Homo sapiens: one gene and its partner. The protein of the gene in region 1 interacts with the protein of each later gene in a biochemical or structural test. Each region holds a gene or a part of one and is shown on either strand. Other genes may lie near its edges.

Region 1 (9,563 bases):
TGGGCGTGGTGGCGGGCACCTGTAATCCCAGCTACTCAGGAGGCTGAGGCAGGAGAATTGCTTGAACCTGGGAGGCAGAGCTTGCAGTGAGCCAAGATCATGCCACTGCACTCCAGCCTGGGTCACAAAGCAAGATTCCATCTGAAAAAAAAAAAAAAGATTGCAGTGGAACTGGGGCTTGGGAGCTGTTAGGGTTTTCACCTCCCTCAGCAATGAGGTTTTGAGGCGAGGAGAAAACCAGGGCCGGCAGGGTGCAGTGGTTCATGCCTGTAATGCCAGCACTTTGTGAGACTAAGGCGGGTGGATCACTTGAGGTCAGGAGTTCGAGACCAGCCAGGCCAACATGGCAAAATCCCGTCTCTACTAAAAATACAAAAGTTATCCGGGCAAGGTGGTGGGCACCTGTAATCCCAGCTGCTCAGGAGGCTGAGACACAAGAATCACTTGAACCCGGAAAGCAGAGGTTGCAGTGAGCTGAGATCATGTCACTGCACTCCAGCCCGGGTGACAGAGGAAGACTCCATCTCAAAAAAAAGAAGAAGAAGAAGAAGGTCGGGCGAGGTGGCTCATGCCTGTAATCCCAGCAATTTGGGAGGCCGAGGCAGGTGGATCACTTGAGGTCAGGAGTTTGAGACCAGCCCGGTCAACATGGTGAAACACTGTCTCTACTAAAAAAAAAAAAAAAAAATACAAAAATTAGCCAGGCGTGGTGGCATGTGCCTGCAATCCCAGCACTTTGGGAGGCCAAGGCAGGTGGATCACTTGAAGTCAGGAGTTCAAGACCAGCCTAGTCAACATGGTGAAACTCCATCTCTACTGAAAAAAAAAAAAAAAAAACAAAAATTAACCGGGCATGGTGGCACGTGCCTGTAATCCCAGCACTTTGGGAGGCTGAGGTAGGTGGATCAATTGAGGTCAGGAGTTCGTAACCATCCTGGCCAACATGGTGAAACCCCATCTCTACTTTAAAAAAATACAAAAATTAGCCAGGCATGGTGGTGCGTGCCTGTAATCCCAGCTATTGGGGAGGCTGAGGCAGGAGAATCACTTAAACCCTGGAGGCGGAGGTTGCAGTGAGCCGAGATTGTGTCTCTGCACTGCAGCCTGGGCAACAGAACAAGACTGTATCTCAAAAAAACAAAAAGAAAACAGAAAGAAAACCAGGGCCTCCTTTAATTATTGCTGCACATCTCTCCTCACATCACCAAGCCAGCCATGAACAGCTGTTGGCTGCTGCCTTTTAGCTGTGACCGCTCTTTCTGGGGACTCTGGCGGCCACAGATGGGCCTACCCTATATAGCATGGTGGTTAAGATTCTAGAGTCATTTCCCTTGAAACCACGTGGGACTTGGTGCAATGCATTTCACCTGAGCCTCAGTTTTCTGTGCCTGTTAAATGGGCACAATGATTACTGGCCACCCCAAAGGTATCCAATAGAAAGTGTTCAACTCAGTTCCAGGATCATGGTTGTTTTGGGGGTTGAGGGGCTGCATGGAGTTGGGGGATGTTGCAGGGTCTCGGCTTCGAGAGCCTCACTCACTCGCAAAGAATGATGCCATCTTTGAGGCCGTCCATGAAGTTGTTGCCGATGCGACGGCCTGTCACCCCCTCGATCCACTCTCTCAGCTCCTGCTCCCGCTGGTGGTCATACTTCTGGGCCAGCTGGGGCGAGGGGAGGGCAGGGGGCACAGAGAAAGGGGTGAGGATGCATTGGGGGCAGCCTGGGCTCCCTGGGTCCTGTCTGAACTTCCTAGAGCCTGATCTCCCTCGTCCTTCCCAACTAAGGCAATTTTGCCCCAGATCCATAGTTGGGGGATGGGGGCTGGGGCGGGCTGAGAGCCAGGGCTGAGGTGGCACCTGCCCAGGGGGCCATTCCGGGCATTCTGAGGTTTGGCACCAGGGAATGTAGATGAGGGGTGGGGTGTGGGGAGCTGGATCCTCTGAGCTAGAGGGGTGGCACCCGGCACCCTGGTTTTTCGCCCAGGCCAAACTTGGGGCTTCTCTTCCTCTAGCCCTGCCCCCTCTGTGCCCCCTGTTGGAAGAGAGGGCACCTCAGGAAGGGAAGAAGGATGTCTAAGGAGGTGTCCCTGGGTGCTGGCTTGCAGAGGAGTGCTGGTCATACATCTCTGTCTCTCCGTGTCCCCCAGGTCTTCAGCTCCAGGGCTCTGTCTCTGGTTAGTGGTGGGGGCTTGTCTCTGTCTTAGCCCCCACCCCTTGCACGTCTGTATGTCTCTCTCCCTCTTATCCCCCCGACTCCTCTGTCTCTCTCTTCCCCAGCGCTGTCTTTTCTTGGCCCAGTCTTGGGTCCCCATCTCTCTAGGTGGCTAGTCCCTGTCTGGCCAGGGGTAGGGCTCCTGGGTCTTGTATATCTGCCTCTCTAGGTCTTTCTCTGTCTCCAGGTTTCCTGCCTGGGGTGGGGGTGGTGGGGCTCTGTCTCCTCTCCCTGCCCCTCCATCCTTGTCTAGGTCTTATCTCGCTCCTGGCTCGCCCTCCCCCGTCTGTCCCTAGGGTGTCTCAGGCTCCCAGTATCTCTGTCTGCCTCTCCCCCCACCTCCCTGCTTTTCCCTCTCTCCACTGTCCCCCCCCTCCCCCACTCCACTCCCATTTCTCCAGAACCCTCCGCCCAAGCCCAGCCAGGCTCCCAGCCCCTAGGGGACCGGGCTGCCTCTTCTTCTCCCGGGTGAGTGGGGGGAGGTGGGAGGGGCGGCCCCCTCACCTGGCCCTGGCCCTGCCGCCCCCCACGCCACCAGCCCGGCTTTATAAAGCAAACCGGCCCTTATATAGCGTGGCCCGGGCTCCCCGAGGCCGCCTTATAAGGCGCGGCGTCTCTGCGCGGCTCTGCGCGGCTCTGGGGCCGGCGCTGGGGGGGAGGAGGGCGGCGCTGGGATCTGTCTCTCGCCCGAGGACCCGCCCCCCACCAGCCCCCTCCTCCAGCCCCGAGATCCCTCGACCCAGGTTCCAACCCAGTCCCCCACTTCCTCACCATGGGACCCTGGGAAAAGCCACCCTGAGCCTCAGTGTTCCCCTCTGTCAAATGGGGCAGGAACTCCTCCCTCGGCAATACTGTTGGGGCGATTCCAGTGGGCTGGAAACTTAAAGTTCTCCAGCTGGGAGAAGCTGAGCCCATCCTGGTGTATGGGGGGTGAGTCCAGGGTCCGAGCGCTGTACCTGCTTTACCTGGGACCCCAGCTATTTGCCTCTCCTCTCCGAACCTCAGTTTACCCAACCATAGCATGAAGGTGGTGTCCAGGTATCTTCCTAGCTCCACAGTCAGGAGACCCCTGCCGCACTTCTGATGCCCGCTTCCTGCCTTTCACCGTCCCCCTCTGTCTTCAGGATCTCCCACACTTTCACGGCGTCACTTCCCAGGTACCCCAGCACTCAAGCGCTCCCCAATTTCTTTGTCAGGCCGGGGGATATGGAAAAATCAACAAGTCTTCCCCCTATGTTGTTCCCCCCAAGAACACGAAGGGTTAACAGAAGACTGATCAGGTGGGTATCTTTGCAATGGACTGACCCCCTCTGTTTATGTGTGGCTGTGTGCCCCCCCATTCCAGCCCCAACCATAGCTGGGGGCTCCGGGATGTTCAGGGGGAGACAGGCAGCCCCTATCCCATATCACTCCCTTTTCCCCTCTCAGTTTCCAAGTCACATAGGATAGGCAGGAGGGGGTTCAAGGGACCCCAAGCTCAGGGCTCTGGCCTGGCAGGACGTGTGGGCCAGGCCAGGGAGGCCCTCCAGCCCTACCTTGTTCTTAACCTCGGCTGACAGCCCGTAGGCAGGGCCTCGGTTGAAGTGAGCAGAGGACATGCTGGCCGGTGGGCTCTGGCGGGGGCAGTGGCGGCACTGACGCTGAGAACAGAGGCAGCGGCTGAAGTTCCGTCTGCACACTCTTCCCTCCTCACATGTTTTTGAAGCTCCGGAGGCGACCCGGGTCTCTTCCAGGGCCGTTCCATTGGCTGTAGGGGCCTGCCAAGGGGCGGGGCACCTCCCCCCACAACCTCAGCTGCCTTCCCCTCCCCTTGTGATGTCAGGCCCTTGGTATTGGGAGCTGATTGTGTCATTGTTTCCACCTAGGGGGGCAGCCTGCGTTATTCTGGGGGGGCTTGGTCAGACAGAGACCAGCCTTCTTCCACCCACCCCTCCCACTGTCCATTGGGCCTCTGGCTGGGTCTGAGTCTCTTTGTCTCTGAGGTCATCTCTCTTTATCTCTCTGGAGTCTTGAAGCAGGACTGACACCCAAGGTAGTTTAGTGAGCACCATCCCGGGTTTATCTCCAGATACCAACAGTCTATAGCCTTAGGTAAGCCCCTTCTCCTCTCTGGGCCTCTATGGCCACATCTGTAAAATGGGCTAACGATAGTGCCTGCCTCATGGGAGAGTTGTAAAGATCAGAAGAATATGCCTGTTACATGCCCAGCACAGTGCCCGGCACAGCAGAGGGACTCGGGCCATAGCAGTCTTTTTAAGGCAAGGTTTCACTCTGTCCCCTCGGCTGGAGTGCAGTGGCACAATCACAGCTCACTGCAGCCTTGACCTCCCAGGCTCAAGTGATCCTCCCATCTCAGCCCATCCAAGTAGTTAGAATTGCAGACTTGTGCCACCAACCTGGCTAATTTTATTTTATTTTTTTAGAGATGGGGTCTCGCTATGTTGCCCGGGGTCTCGCTATGTTGCCCAGGCTGGTCTCAAATTTCTGGGCTCAAGCAATCTGCCCGCCTTGGCCTCCCAAAACGCTGGGATTTACAGGCATGAGTCACCATGCCCAGCCTATAGCATTCTTTATGCTGAGGGTCCAGCACCCCAGTTCTGTCTCCTCCAGCCCCTCATAAGGACCTGGGGGAGAAGAGATCCTGGGTCTCACCCTCCCCATCCACTTGTGTGTCACCTGAACTACAGGGTGACTTTGTTGGCAAGTCCCAGGCCGTGAACTGTGTCCCTGTCAAACAGCCCTACCCAGCCAGATCTCACCCCTGGACCACAGGGGTGGATGCTATGCCCACATCATGCCCCACATGGCAAGGCCATGTTTGTGACACTTGGATGACATGTCTGCAACCTGCCACACACTAATGATATGTTGAGGATATGCAGTTTATCGGTCACATGCTAATGGCATGGCTGCAATATGCCACAGACTACAGCCCTTATGTCAGGCCATGTTCCAACTCTGTACATATATCCATTCAATTCTCATGACGCCCTCAGAGATGGACACTGTTATTATTATTATTATTATTATTATTATTATTATTTGGAGACAGAGTCTCTATTCCCCAGGCTGGAGTGCAGTGATGCTATCTCGGCTCACTGCAACCTCCACCTCCTGGGTTCAAGCGATTCTCCTGCCTCAGCCTCCCAAGTAGCTGGGATGACAGGTGTCTGCCACCACGACTGGCTATTTTTTGTATTTTTAGTAGAGACGGGGTTTTGCCATGTTAGCCAGGCTGGTCTCGAACTCCTGACCTCAGTTGATCTGCCCACCTCGGCCTTGCAAAGTGCTGGGATTACAGGCGTGAGCCACCGTGCCCAGCTGACACTGTTATTATTAATACAAGTACTTTGCTTTACAGGTGGGGAAACTGAGGCACGGGGGCTTGGAATCACTTTTTCAGCGTCACACAGCAGGCCAGGGGCAGAGGAGAATTTGAGACCATGCTCCATGAACCTCAACTATGAGGCTAAGGTGGGGTTTCTCAACCTCCACACTGTTGACAGCTGAGGCTGGATAATTCTTCATGGTTGGGGGGCTGCCTTGGGCATTCATTGTAAGACTTCAAGCAGCATGCCTGGCCTCTACCTGCTACATGCCAGTAGCACTCTCTTAGTCCTAATAAACAGAAATGTTGAGGCACTGCGGCAGGACCCTGTAGTCCCAGCTACTAAGGAGGCTGAGGTGGGAGGATCCCTTGAGCCCAGGAGTTTGAGAACCATCTGGCCAAGATAGCAAGACCATGGTCTCTAAAAAAGAAAAATTAAAAGAAGAAATGTCTACACACATTGCCAATGTCCCATGATTGGGGTCGGGGTGGAAGCAGATCACCCCTGTTTGCCAACCACTGAGCTAAGGCAATGTGCTAGTTGATGGCATGTCATGATATGTTGAACATACACGAAAATACATAAAATACGAGGCCAAGGCGGGAGGATCGCTTGAGCCCTGGAGTTCGAGACCCGAGACCAGCTTAGGCAACATAGCGAGACCCCGTCTCTATTTAAAAAAAAAAAAAAGAAAAAATAGAAAGTACATAAAATGAGCTAACAATTAGCACCTGCTACGTACTAAGAGCTTTGAGCCTGTTAACTCATTCCTCACGACAGCCTTATGAGGTGGGTCTATACGAGGCACAGAGAGGTGACGCCGAATGGCCGGGTCACACAGCTCGAGGGTGGCAGGGGCGGGATTCGAACGCGCAGATTCCTGGATCCCTCCCAAACTGAGCGGCCCTCGGGGGCCGCAGTTCGCTACTGCGCATGTGAGGACCTGCAGCCGGCGCCCCCTGGCGGCCCGGGAGGGGCGGGGGCGGGACCTGGCGAGGTCCAGGCGGCGGTGACGTCACGCGATGACTCACTCGGCCCCGCCCCCCGGCCCGCGGCCTCTTGGCCATTTATAGAATCTGCACGGACTCTGAAGTCACGGCCCAGGCACGACGGGGGCGGGGTGGGGGAGCTCTTGGCGTGCCCCCCAACGGGGCAGCCCCGGGTACCCCCAGGGGGCAGCCCTTTCGGGGACTGCCTTGTCCCTCTGATTGTAGTAGGTCTGTGTCTCTGTATCTCCGTCTCTGGGTCGCTGAGCCTTTTTCTGTCTCTGCCTTTGTCTCTGTGTCTCTGTTTCTGTGCCTGGTCTTTGAGTCATTCTGTTTCTCTTCATGTCGCTGTCGCTGTATTGTCCGTCTCTCTTCGCGTCTCTGTCTGGTAGATGGGGGTAGAGGCATTAGAGGGGGCTGATCCCATATCGAGGCCCCAATCCCAGTAGACACCCGAGTGTCATCCCTTATTCGCTCCTTTCTGGCATTTTCCAGGCTCTAGCCCCTCTGTGCCTCAGTTTACCATCTAAATGAGAAGTGTAGGATCTTGTAAGAGGCACGGTTTCCCGAAGGGTCTAGGACAGTCATTGTAGGAAAGCCATGCCTCTCCTCAACTTCAGGGGACCCCCTAAAACCTTCCTGATGCTCAGAACCATTTAAAACTCACACTTGGCCGGGCGTGGTTTCTCACGCCTGTAATCCCAGCACTTTGAGAGGCCAAGGCGGGTGGATCACCTGAGGTCAGTAGTTCAAGACCAGCCTGACCAACATGGTGAAACCCCGTGTCTACTAAAAATACAAAATTAGCCGGGCATGGTGGTACATGCCTGTAATCCCAGCTACTCGGGAGGCTGAGGCAGGAGAATTGCTTGAACCCGGCATGTCAGGCAGAGGTTGCAGTGAGCCAAGATCACACCACTGCACTCCAGCCTGGGCCACGGGAGTGAGACTCTGACTCAAAAAATGTAAAAATAAAAATAAAACCCACACTCACACGTGTTTGTCTGTGTGTTTTGGGGAAAGTCAAAGCCCTGCTCTGCACCGGCCTATCTTGGCATCCTGCTCTGCAAGCTCCCTCCTCACGAAGCTTTCCTATCCAGAAATCTGGCAGAGGCTCTTGTTCCTAAAGGCTTCTGTTATGGGAACACTCACTCCATGCCAGCCACAATCTCTTTTAATCCTCACCATCACCTTCTGAGGGTAGAAACTCATAGGTCCATTTTATAGATGGGAAACTCAAGGTTCAGAGAAGCCAAGCCACCCTCCCAGGTAACACTGTTTGTACCTTTTCTTCCAAGTCCCTCCAGATGTGCTGTTTCTTCTTCTTCTTCTCCCTCTTCTTCTTCTTCTTCTTTCTTCTTTCTTCTTTCTTCTCCTTCTCCTTCTCCTTCTTTCTTCTTTCTTCTTTCTTTTCTTCCTCTTCCTCTTCCGCTGCTGCTGCTGCTCCTTCTCCTTCTCCTTCTTCTTCCTCTTCTTCTTCCTCTTCCTCTTTTTCTTCTTGTTCTCCTTCTTCTTCCTCTTCTTCTGCTGCTGCTTCTCCTCCTCCTCCTTCTTCTTCTTTCTTCTTTCTTCCTTCTCCTCCTCCTTCTCCTTCTTCCCCTTCTCCCTTCTCTCTTCTCCCTTCTCCTTATTTCTTCTTCTTCTTCTCCTTTTTTTTTTTTTTTTGAGTCAGAGTATCGCTCTGTCGCTCAGGTTGGAGTGGCATGATCTCGGTTCACTGCAACCTCCACCTCCTGGTTTCAAGCAATTCTGGAGCCTCAGCCTCCCAAGTAGCTGGGATTACAGGCACCCGCTACCACGCTGGGCTACAGATGTGTTTCTTGAGTCCCCAAACATGTTCCCACCTCAGGGTCTTTACAATAGCAGTTCCTGCCACCTGGAACACATTTCTGCAAGATGCCTGCATGGCCTCTCCCCAACTTCATTCAGTCTCTGCTCTAATATCACCTCTCAGAGAGGCCTTCCCTGACCACCTGCTGTAAAATAATAGCATCTCTCACCCCCAGACTGACTGTGAGTGGGTGGACAGGGAGGGAGCTGTTCACTTATAGTCTGGGTGCAGTGGCTCGTGTCTGTAATTCCAGCACTTTGGGAGGCCAAGATGGGCAGATTGTTTGAGGCCAGCAGTTCAAGACCAGCCTGGGAGACATGGCAGGGCCCTGCCTCTACAAAAAAAAAAAAAAGAGAGAGAGCTTTTTAAAAAAGTGCATTTTGGGAGGGCAAGGCAGGAGGATTGCTTGAGCCCAGGAGTTGGAGGCTACAGTGAGCTATGATCATGACACTGCTTATTTTTTTTTTTTTTTTTTTTTTTACAGAATCTCACTCTGTCACCCAGGCCGGAGTACAGTGGCATGATCTCAGCTCACTGCAACTTCCACCTCCCAGGTTCAAGCAATTATCCTGCCTCAGCCTCCTGAGTAGCTGGGATTACAGGTGCCCACCACCATACCGGGCTAATTTTTGTATTTTTAGTAGAGATGGGGTTTCACCATGTTGGCCAGACTGGTCTCGAACTACTGACCTCAGGTAATCTGCTTGCCTTGGCCTCCCAAAGTGCTGGGATTACAGGCATGAGCCACTGTGTCCAGCCATGCCATTGCATTTTAGTTTGGGTGAAAAATAAATAAATAAGAAAAGAAAAGAATGCTTGACGGCCGGGTGTGGTGGCTCACGCCTGTAATCCCAGCACTTTGGGAGGCCAAGGCAGGCGGATCACGAGGTCAGGAGATCGAGACCATCCTGGCCAACATGGTGAAACCCTGTCTCTACTAAAAATACAAAAAATTAGCCGGGCGTGGTGGCGGGCGCCTGTAGTCCCAGCTACTTGGGAGGCTGAGGCAGGAGAATGGCGTCAAGCTGTGGGGCAGAGCTTGCAGTGAGCTGAGATCGTGCCACTGCATTCCAGCCTGGGCGACAGAGCGAGACTCTGTCTCAAAAAAATAAATAAATAAATAAATAAATAAATAAATAAATAAAAGAATGCTTGACAACATGTAACGCAGAGGAGGCTGTGGGAACATTGTTGATGAGTGTGGG
Region 2 (8,169 bases), on another chromosome or scaffold:
GGCATGTCAGAGGTCTTCACGGCAACTGCACCCATCACAGGCCCAAAGGCCTAGGAGGAAAGAGTGATTTCCTGGGCTGTGCCCAGGATCACTATGCTGTGTGCAGCCTAGGGACTTGGTGCCCTGTGTCCCAGCTGCTCCAGCCATGGCTGAAAGGGGCCAATGTAGAACTCAGGCCATGGCTTCAGAGGGTGCAAGCCCCAAGCCTTGGCAGCTTCCATGTGGTGTTGAGCCTGCGGGTGCACAGAAGAACTGAGGTTTGGGAACCTCTGCCTCGATTTCAGAGGATGTATGGAAATGCCTGGATGTCCAGGCAGAAGTTTGCTGCAGGTGCAGGGCTCTCATGGAGAACCTCTGCTGGGGCAGTGCAGAAGGAAAATGTGGGGTCAGAGCCTCTACACAGAGTCCCTACTGGGGCACCACCTAGTGGAGCTGTGAGAAGAGGGCCAAAATCTTCCAGACCCCAGAATGGTAGATCCACCAACAGCTTGCACCGTGTGCCTGGAAAAGCTGTAGACACTCAACATCAGCCCGTGAAAGCAGCCAGGAGGGAGGCTGTACCCTGGAGAGCCACAGGGGCAGAGCCGCCCAACACCATGGGAACCCACCTCTTGCATCGGTGTGACCTCGTTGTGAGACATGGAGTCAAAGGAGATCATTTTGGAGCTTTAAGATTTGACTGCCCCACTGGATTTCAGACTTGCGTGGGGCCTGTAGCCCCTTTGTTTTGGCCAATTTCTCCCATTTGGAATGGCTGTATTTACCCAATGCCTGTATCCCCATTGTTTCTAGGAAGTAACTAACTTGCTTTTGATTTTACAGGCTCATAGGCAGAAGGGACTTGCCTTGTCTCAGATGAGACGTCGAACTGTGGACTTTTGAGTTAATGCTGAAATGAGTTAAGACTTTGGGGGACTGTTGGGAAGGCATGATTAGTTTTGAAATGTGACGACATGAGATTTGGGAGGATCCAGGCAGAATGATATGGTTTGGCTGTGTCCCCACTCCAAACTCATCTTGAATTCCTATGTGTTGTGGGAGGGAGCCGGTGGGAGATAATTGAATCATGGGGGCAGGTCTTTCCTGTGCTGCTCTCGTGAGAGTGAGTAAGTCTCATGAGATCTGATGGTTTTGAAAAATGGGAGTCTCCCTACACAAACTCTCTCTTTGCCTGCTATCATCCATGTAAGACGTGACTTGCTCCTCCTTGCCTTCCACCATGATTGTGAGGCCTCCCCAACCATGTGGAATTGTAAGTCCATTAAACCTCTTCATTTTGTAAATTGCCCAGTATCTGGTATCTTCATCAGCAGTGTGAAAATGGACTAATACAATATCTAATGCAAGAATTGTTTACAGGTTTATCTTGAAACTTGTAGGTATAGAAAGTGATGGAGAATCTGGAGTTTGCTAGGGCTTTGGGAATGTAACACTCAGCCAAGGTTCCCTCAGAATTCTTTTTCAGGGACTCTGAAATCAAGGTATCTGGCATTCCCCTGAGAGCTCAAGTACTCATATTAAATGAACACCTTTTTGAGGACTTGTCTAAGCATCTACTTCATGCTGTAGCTTGAGGGTAAATGCTCCTGCTGTTCAGTACAAGCAACCCAGCGGCCTGGCTCCCTAGCTATCCCCTAATCAATTACACTGAATGTGCTCTAGGACCCCTCCTACCGCACCATCTCTTAGTCTGCAGTTCCCTTAGAACTCTGCCCACATGCATAATAGTCCTTTCCTAAGAATATTTTGAATAGAGGTTTCCCTCTCTTTCTGCTATATCATCTTTCAGAAGATTACTTGATTTCCAATAATACTCTTTTTTATTGGAATTTTTTTATTCTATTATTTCCATTCACTTTTATAGACCTAAAGTAGAAAGGGAGGGAGGTAGCTATATGTGCTCAGTCTGCCATCTTGATCCAGGATCTCTGGATCACCATTCTGCTTTTATCTCTTATTAGTATCCTGCTATTCCTAGACCCCCTGGGTTGCTTTCTATTATTGACTTTCCTGATGACACATAAGTTCAAATCTCTGGTACACAAGCCAAAAGTGACATGTATTCACGTTCTTGGGCCCTAGACCAATTGCTGTTGGTTGCCTACCTCTTGTACTCTTCCTATTTATAAATTTTTTCTCCTGTGAGTCTGGTGAATATGAATGAAGTCTCCAGAGGCTTATCATTCCCAAATTAAGGGAAATAATTTGAATTTTCAGTGTGCCAGTATAGGAAGCGGTGAACTATAGTTGTTAGAAACATAAGCTTAAATCCCAACTCCCTTGGCAAGTCACTTAATCTCTTTTCAAATTTAATTTAAAACTTTTTTTTTTTTTAAGAGACAGGTCTCTCTATGTTGCCCAGGCTGCTCTTGAACTCCTGGGCTCTAGTGATCCTCCTACGTCGGCCTCCCAAAGTGCTGGTATTACAGGCTTGAGCCTACTCAATATCTATGTCTTAGTTTCCTCATCTATAGAGTAGCCATATGAATTATCATTGTACCTTTAGGGTAGCTGTGAACATTCTTCCTGTAGGCAAATTCTAACACATGCTTACTAATATGGTAATAAATGTTAGCTATTACTATTATTAAAATCTACTCCCTTGGCCAGGCATGGTATCCCAGCACTTTGGGAGGCCAAGGTGGGTGGATCACTCGAGGTCAGGAGTTTGAGACCAGCCTGGGCAATGTGACAAAACCCCATCTCTGCTAAAAATAGAAAAATTAGCCAGGCGTGGTGGCATGCACCTGTAATCTCAGCTATTCAGGAGGCTGAGGCATGAGATCACTTGAACCCGGGAGGCACAGGTTGCAGTGAGCCAAGATCTCACCACTACAGCCTGGGTGACAGAGTAAGACTCTGTCTCAAAAAAAAAAAGAAAAAAAAGAAATCTACTCTCTGGACAGCAAAGATACAAGATGGAGTTTTCTCATGAGTCTTTCTTAACCTGGAAGTCTTTAGTGCTTAATGGAGCCTGATTAAAGAAAGTTCTACTTAGGGACTTCCCATCTGCACCACTGCTATGGATGCCATAGCAGAATAAGAGACATAAATGTCCCAGAGGTATATGTGTCTCCGAGGTATGAGATTCTTTTTTTTTTTGGAGACAGGGTCTCACTCTGTTGCCCAAGCTGGAGAGCAGTGGCATGATCATTGCTCACAGCAACCTCTGCCTCCCAGGTTCAAGCAATCCTCCCACCTCAGCCTCCCGAGTAGCTGGGACTACTGGGATATACCACCACTCCTGGCTAATTATTTTTTGTATTTTTTTGTAGAAGCAGGGTTTGGCCCTGTTGCCCAGGCTGGTCTCAAACTCCTGGGCTCAAGCAATCCACCCACCGCAGCCTTCCGAAGTGCTGGGATCACAGGTGTGAGCCACCGCACCCGGCAAGGTTTGAGATTCTTTATCTGAGCAGCAAATGAAGTCAGGAGGCTACAGCAGTCATAGGCTCAAAACAGAGTCAGAGGCTCAAGACAGCCTATCTAGGGTGATGAAATAAGAAATTAGGTAGTGAGGCTGGGTGCGGTGGCTCATGCCTGTAATCCCAGCACTTTGGGAGGTCAAGGTGGGCGGATCACCTGAGGTCAGGAGTTCGAGACCAGCCTGACCAACATGGAGAATTCCCATCTCTACTAAAAATACAAAATTAGCCAGGCATGGTGGCGCTTGCCTGTAATCCCAGCTACTCAGGAGGCTGAGGCAGGAGAATCGCTTGAACCTGGGAGGCAGAGGTTGTGGTAAGCCAAGGTCGCGCCATTGCACTCCAGCCTGGGCAACAAGAGCGAAACTCTGTCTCAAAAAAAAAAAAAAAAAAAAAAGAGGCCGGGCGTGGTGGCTCATGCCTGTAATCCCAACACTTTGGGAGGCCGAGGCAGGTGGATCACCCAAGGCCAGGAGTTCAAGACCAGCCTGGCAACATGGCAAAACACTGTCTCTACTAAAAATACAAAAATTAGCCAGGTGTGGTGATGGCGCATGTCTGCAATCCCAGCCATTTGGGAGGCTGAGGCAGGAGAATCACTTGAGCCCAGGAGGTGGAGGCTGCAGTGAGCCAAGTTCATGCCACTGCACTCCAGCCTGGGCAACAGAGCGAGACTGTCTCAAAAAAAAGGAAAAAAAAAAAAAGAAAAGAAATTAGGTAATGAAAATGTAAATCATTTTTTGTCCATCGAGGATGGTAACATATCCCTAAAAAGCCTGGGTAGGCTGTTTCTGGGACTTGTGAGTGTCAAGAAACAATTACATATTATTTCCTCGTCACTTACCTCTTAGTTGCTGGAGTTCCATATTCAAACTTTCAATGTTACTTTCACAGAACTTGAGATCCTCGAGGGTCTCTGCTCTTGATGATTCATCCTGCTTCTCCTCCAGCATGAGGTTTAGCTCTTCTTGAGCTCTACTGTACATATCCAAGTCCCGCTCCATTTCCTCAATCCTCACCAGCACTAAGGGGCATGGGGAGGTCTGGTCCAGACTCCTTCCCATATGACCAGGGCCCTCCTTTTCTAAGGTCTCACAGGTAGGACGGTGTCGAGATAGGAGCTTGGGGGATACCGCATTCGTTCTCTGCTGTGCTGAGGGAGGCAGGGGAGCTGGGCGAGAGGGTCGCACCACCAAGGGTGGTGCAGGTTTTAGGTTCTGGTCAACCAGCAAATGGGGAGAAGTGGATACCGGAGTACAGGGACGAGGTGGCGGTGGCCTTAGGGCCTTTCTCCTTTCCGGCAGCTCCTGCTCGGTGATTAACTTTGAGGAACCTCGGACAATATCCTTCTCAGAGTTAAAGTCCATGATTGAAAAGTGGCGTAAAATTTTATCTGGCTCTGTGCCGGGCCCTGCCAAGCTCTTCTCAAACTCGATCAGCTGTTGTGTCAGCTTCGAGTCCAGGTCAGTGCTGCCGTCTCCCTGTGAATGTGTTGCTGCTTCCATAACAAGCCCTTGGGCTTGCGGACCAGGCTTCATCTCCAATCTCTCTGAGATGGAGTAAACACTGGACGTGTGGTGCTTTTTAGTATAACTTGCTAGGTTGTGGAGCTGAGGACTTGATTGTCTGGGTTTGACTACCCTTGAAGCTGAAACAGAAGAGCCCCTGTAAAGAGGGAGCACTGGCTTCTGAAGAGTTTTTAGCTGGGAATACATTCTTTTGGGAGGTAGGCTGGCATAGTCTCTAGTCCTTGCTTCTAGGGGAAGAAGGTCGGGGTACTGTTCTGAGTGCGGGTGGCTCCCTCCCACTGTAGAATAATACTGGCTTTTCTGCAAGTTGGGATGAAAAGGGACCTGAGGTTGGGAGGAAATACCATTGACTACTTCTGTAGGGTCAGATGTGGGAGAGTCTGTGGCAAGAGGCATTTCCCACTCCACGCCTGGGCTTCTCGGGGGCCCTCCTGCGGTGTCCTCGTCCTGATAAGAGTTTCTGTCTGTGTCATACTCTGAAGTCAGATGACCGAGGGGAGAAGTGGGTGCTTCAGAAATAATGCAGTCAGGCTCCTCGGCCTCATGGTCACTGGTTTCATGTCTTTGTTCCTCTACTCCTAAGGTGTTCTCCAAACAATCCAAAGAAGTTTCCGGGATCCTGGCAAGGCTGCCTTCCTGGGGCAGAGCCATGGTTTCCTCCACCCGTGTGTCAGGACATAATTTCACAAACCGGTAAGGAAAGATGCCTGTCCTGCCCTTCAGGGATCCTTCCAGCCAGCCATCTTCCAAGGTCGCCAGAATTCGGATTTTATCCCCGACCTCGAAATCCAGCTCATTTGGCTCCAGGGCTTGGAATCTGTACAGGGCGACCCCATAGGTCCCTGGCTCCTCCTCATCCTCATCCGGCCCTATCTCTTCTTCTCCTACAGGGGTATCTACTTCACCATTAACAATGCAGTCATCTTGATTTCCAGAACTTACTGACTCATCCACAGTCCTCAGGGGCCCCAACAGCTCTACAAAACCTTCTGGAAAAATGCCTCTTCGGCCCTCTAACTCCCCTTCAAACCAGCCTGGTTCAGGAACTCCAATAATGGTGATCACATCCCCTTCCCTGAAGTCCAGCTCTTCATCCAGCTGAGCAGAAAGCCCCATTAGGGCCCGGGCTTGTCCCATGGAATATTCCGGAATCTGAAACAGGGCGCTCTGGGAGTGCCACTGCCGGCTCTGTGAGGAGAGGCAGAGCTCGCGGACACATGAAGATGGGAAGAAGCCCCGTGCGCCCCAGCAGCTTCGGCCCTGCAGCCAGCCTGCAGTGGGAATGCCATCGAGAATCACCAGGTCACCTAAAGAAAAGAGGAGCAGAGATGGTGACCTCAGTCATCACCCAGCAGAACATTATCACGACTAATAGTGCAACCTCTCATTTTAAACAGCTACCAAATTCAAGGAAATACACCTAGAGCTTTAGGAGCATGAACAATTTTGACAATTTATTGAATTGGAGCAGTTCTATAAACCTGTAGTTTTCAGAGTGTTCCATGGAACCCTACAGGTGGGTCTCCAAGATCCTAGCAGAGAATCTGTGAGGTCAAAACCATTCTCATAATAACACTAAGACTTTATCTACATATTTTACTCTGCTGACTTTTGTAATCTCTGTGAAAAAGCAATGGTGATTAAAACTGCTGGCCAGCTAGGTGCTGTGGCTTACACCAGAAATCCGAGCACTTTGGGAGGCCAAGGCAGGAGGATCGCTTGAGACCAGGAGTTCAAAACCAGCCTGGGCAACATGTCAAGACCTTGTCTCTACAATAAATTTAAAAATTAGCTGTGCACTGTGGCTCATGCCTGTAGTCCCAGCTATTCAGGAGGCTGAGGTGGGAGGATAGCTTGAACCCAGGAGGTCAAGGCTGCAGTAAGCTGTGATTTCACCACTACGCTCCAGTCTGGGTGACAGAGCAACACTTGTCTCAAAAATAAAAATAAAATGGCTGGGCGCGATGGCTCATGCCTGTGATCCCAGCACTTTGGGAGGCCAAGGCAGGCGGATCACTTGAGGTCAGGAGTTCGAGAGCAGCCTGGTCAACATGGTGAAACACCATCTCTACTAAAAATACAAAAATTAGCTGAGCATGGTGGCACGTGCCTGTAGTCCCAGCTATTCAGGAGGCTGAGGCAGAAATTAAACTCAGGAGGCAGAGGTCGCAGTGAGCCGAGATCGCACCACTGCACTCCAGCTTGGGCAACAGAGCAAGACTCCATCTCAAAAAAATAATAAATTAATTAAAAACTGCTGGCAATTCATAAGCAAAGGCAGTAGCCACAAATTACATGAATAGTCACTGTATGGTCATCGTATTCTTCACAACCATGTACTCACAGTTTTTAAAAAAGCCATTTTCAGTTAAGAAGCAATACAAATTATGCACTGTGCTAAATCTCAACCCTTAAGAACAATTCTTTTGTAATATTCTGTGTGACAATATAGGAATTACACATAAAGCACTTTTACTGCTGAGGAGAAGCACGAGTAACTGAGTTATATGCCTGAACCGTCTGTTTATTTTCACATAACACCATTTTATGTGCAAGAATGAATAACAGACAACTATGTTTATTCAGACTTAGATATCTGGCAGATGTTTCCTCCAAAATGAAAGTGAGTCTGAAACATCAAGGAGAACAAATGACAGTATTTGTTGCCAATGATAAAATTCCAACTTCCAAGAGAAAATGAGAATTTTGGAAAACTTGTATCTACTACCATGGGCTTGGCAGCTTTCCCATACTTAAAGATTCTTCTGATGAGATAGTAACAAATATGATTTTTTCACATTGTATGTTGAAATGGTCAACATTTGGAATAACTGAGTAGCTAATTGAATCAATATTTCCTAAATGACAAATGCATGCTGGTATAAAATCATTCATGGCTAAAAGATTCACACTCCAAAAGCAAGATAGATTAATGAATTTTAGTGTAATATTATGAAAGTTCACCGACGTAGTTTCAGATCCCACACTGCAATTAACTCGTAAGAAATTACCAATCGTTGAATTTTGGTGCAGTGTCAACGATGAATATTTGCAATTATTTGAAAAGACTATTAAAATACCTTTTCCTGTCTCCCATTGCATATTTGTGTAAGGCTGGATTTTCTTCACATAATTCCATGAAAACAACACATTGCAACAGATTGAATACAGATGCAAATAGAATCTGGTTTTCTTTTAGTAAGTTGAACATTAAAAAT

Evidence for each region. Proteins that work in one complex are often made in the same cells at the same time.
Region 2: the proteins of CNN1 (region 1) and DNMBP form a complex in vitro, tested with the Homo sapiens proteins (one study listed by BioGRID).

What each region holds. Positions count from the first base shown.
Region 1 is NC_000019.10:11,533,175-11,542,737, reverse strand, and holds the start of CNN1 (calponin-1), read right to left. Parts: upstream 3,888-9,563; 5' UTR 3,811-3,887; coding exon 3,748-3,810; intron 3,444-3,747; exon of another isoform or gene 3,169-3,443; intron 2,754-3,168; exon of another isoform or gene 2,313-2,753; coding exon of another isoform or gene 2,052-2,312; intron 1,663-2,051; coding exon 1,541-1,662; intron 1-1,540. UniProt on the Homo sapiens protein: Thin filament-associated protein that is implicated in the regulation and modulation of smooth muscle contraction. It is capable of binding to actin, calmodulin and tropomyosin. The interaction of calponin with actin inhibits the actomyosin Mg-ATPase activity.
Region 2 is NC_000010.11:99,950,948-99,959,116, forward strand, and holds part of DNMBP (dynamin-binding protein), read right to left. Parts: intron 8,052-8,169; exon of another isoform or gene 6,259-8,051; coding exon 4,267-6,258; intron 1-4,266. UniProt on the Homo sapiens protein: Plays a critical role as a guanine nucleotide exchange factor (GEF) for CDC42 in several intracellular processes associated with the actin and microtubule cytoskeleton.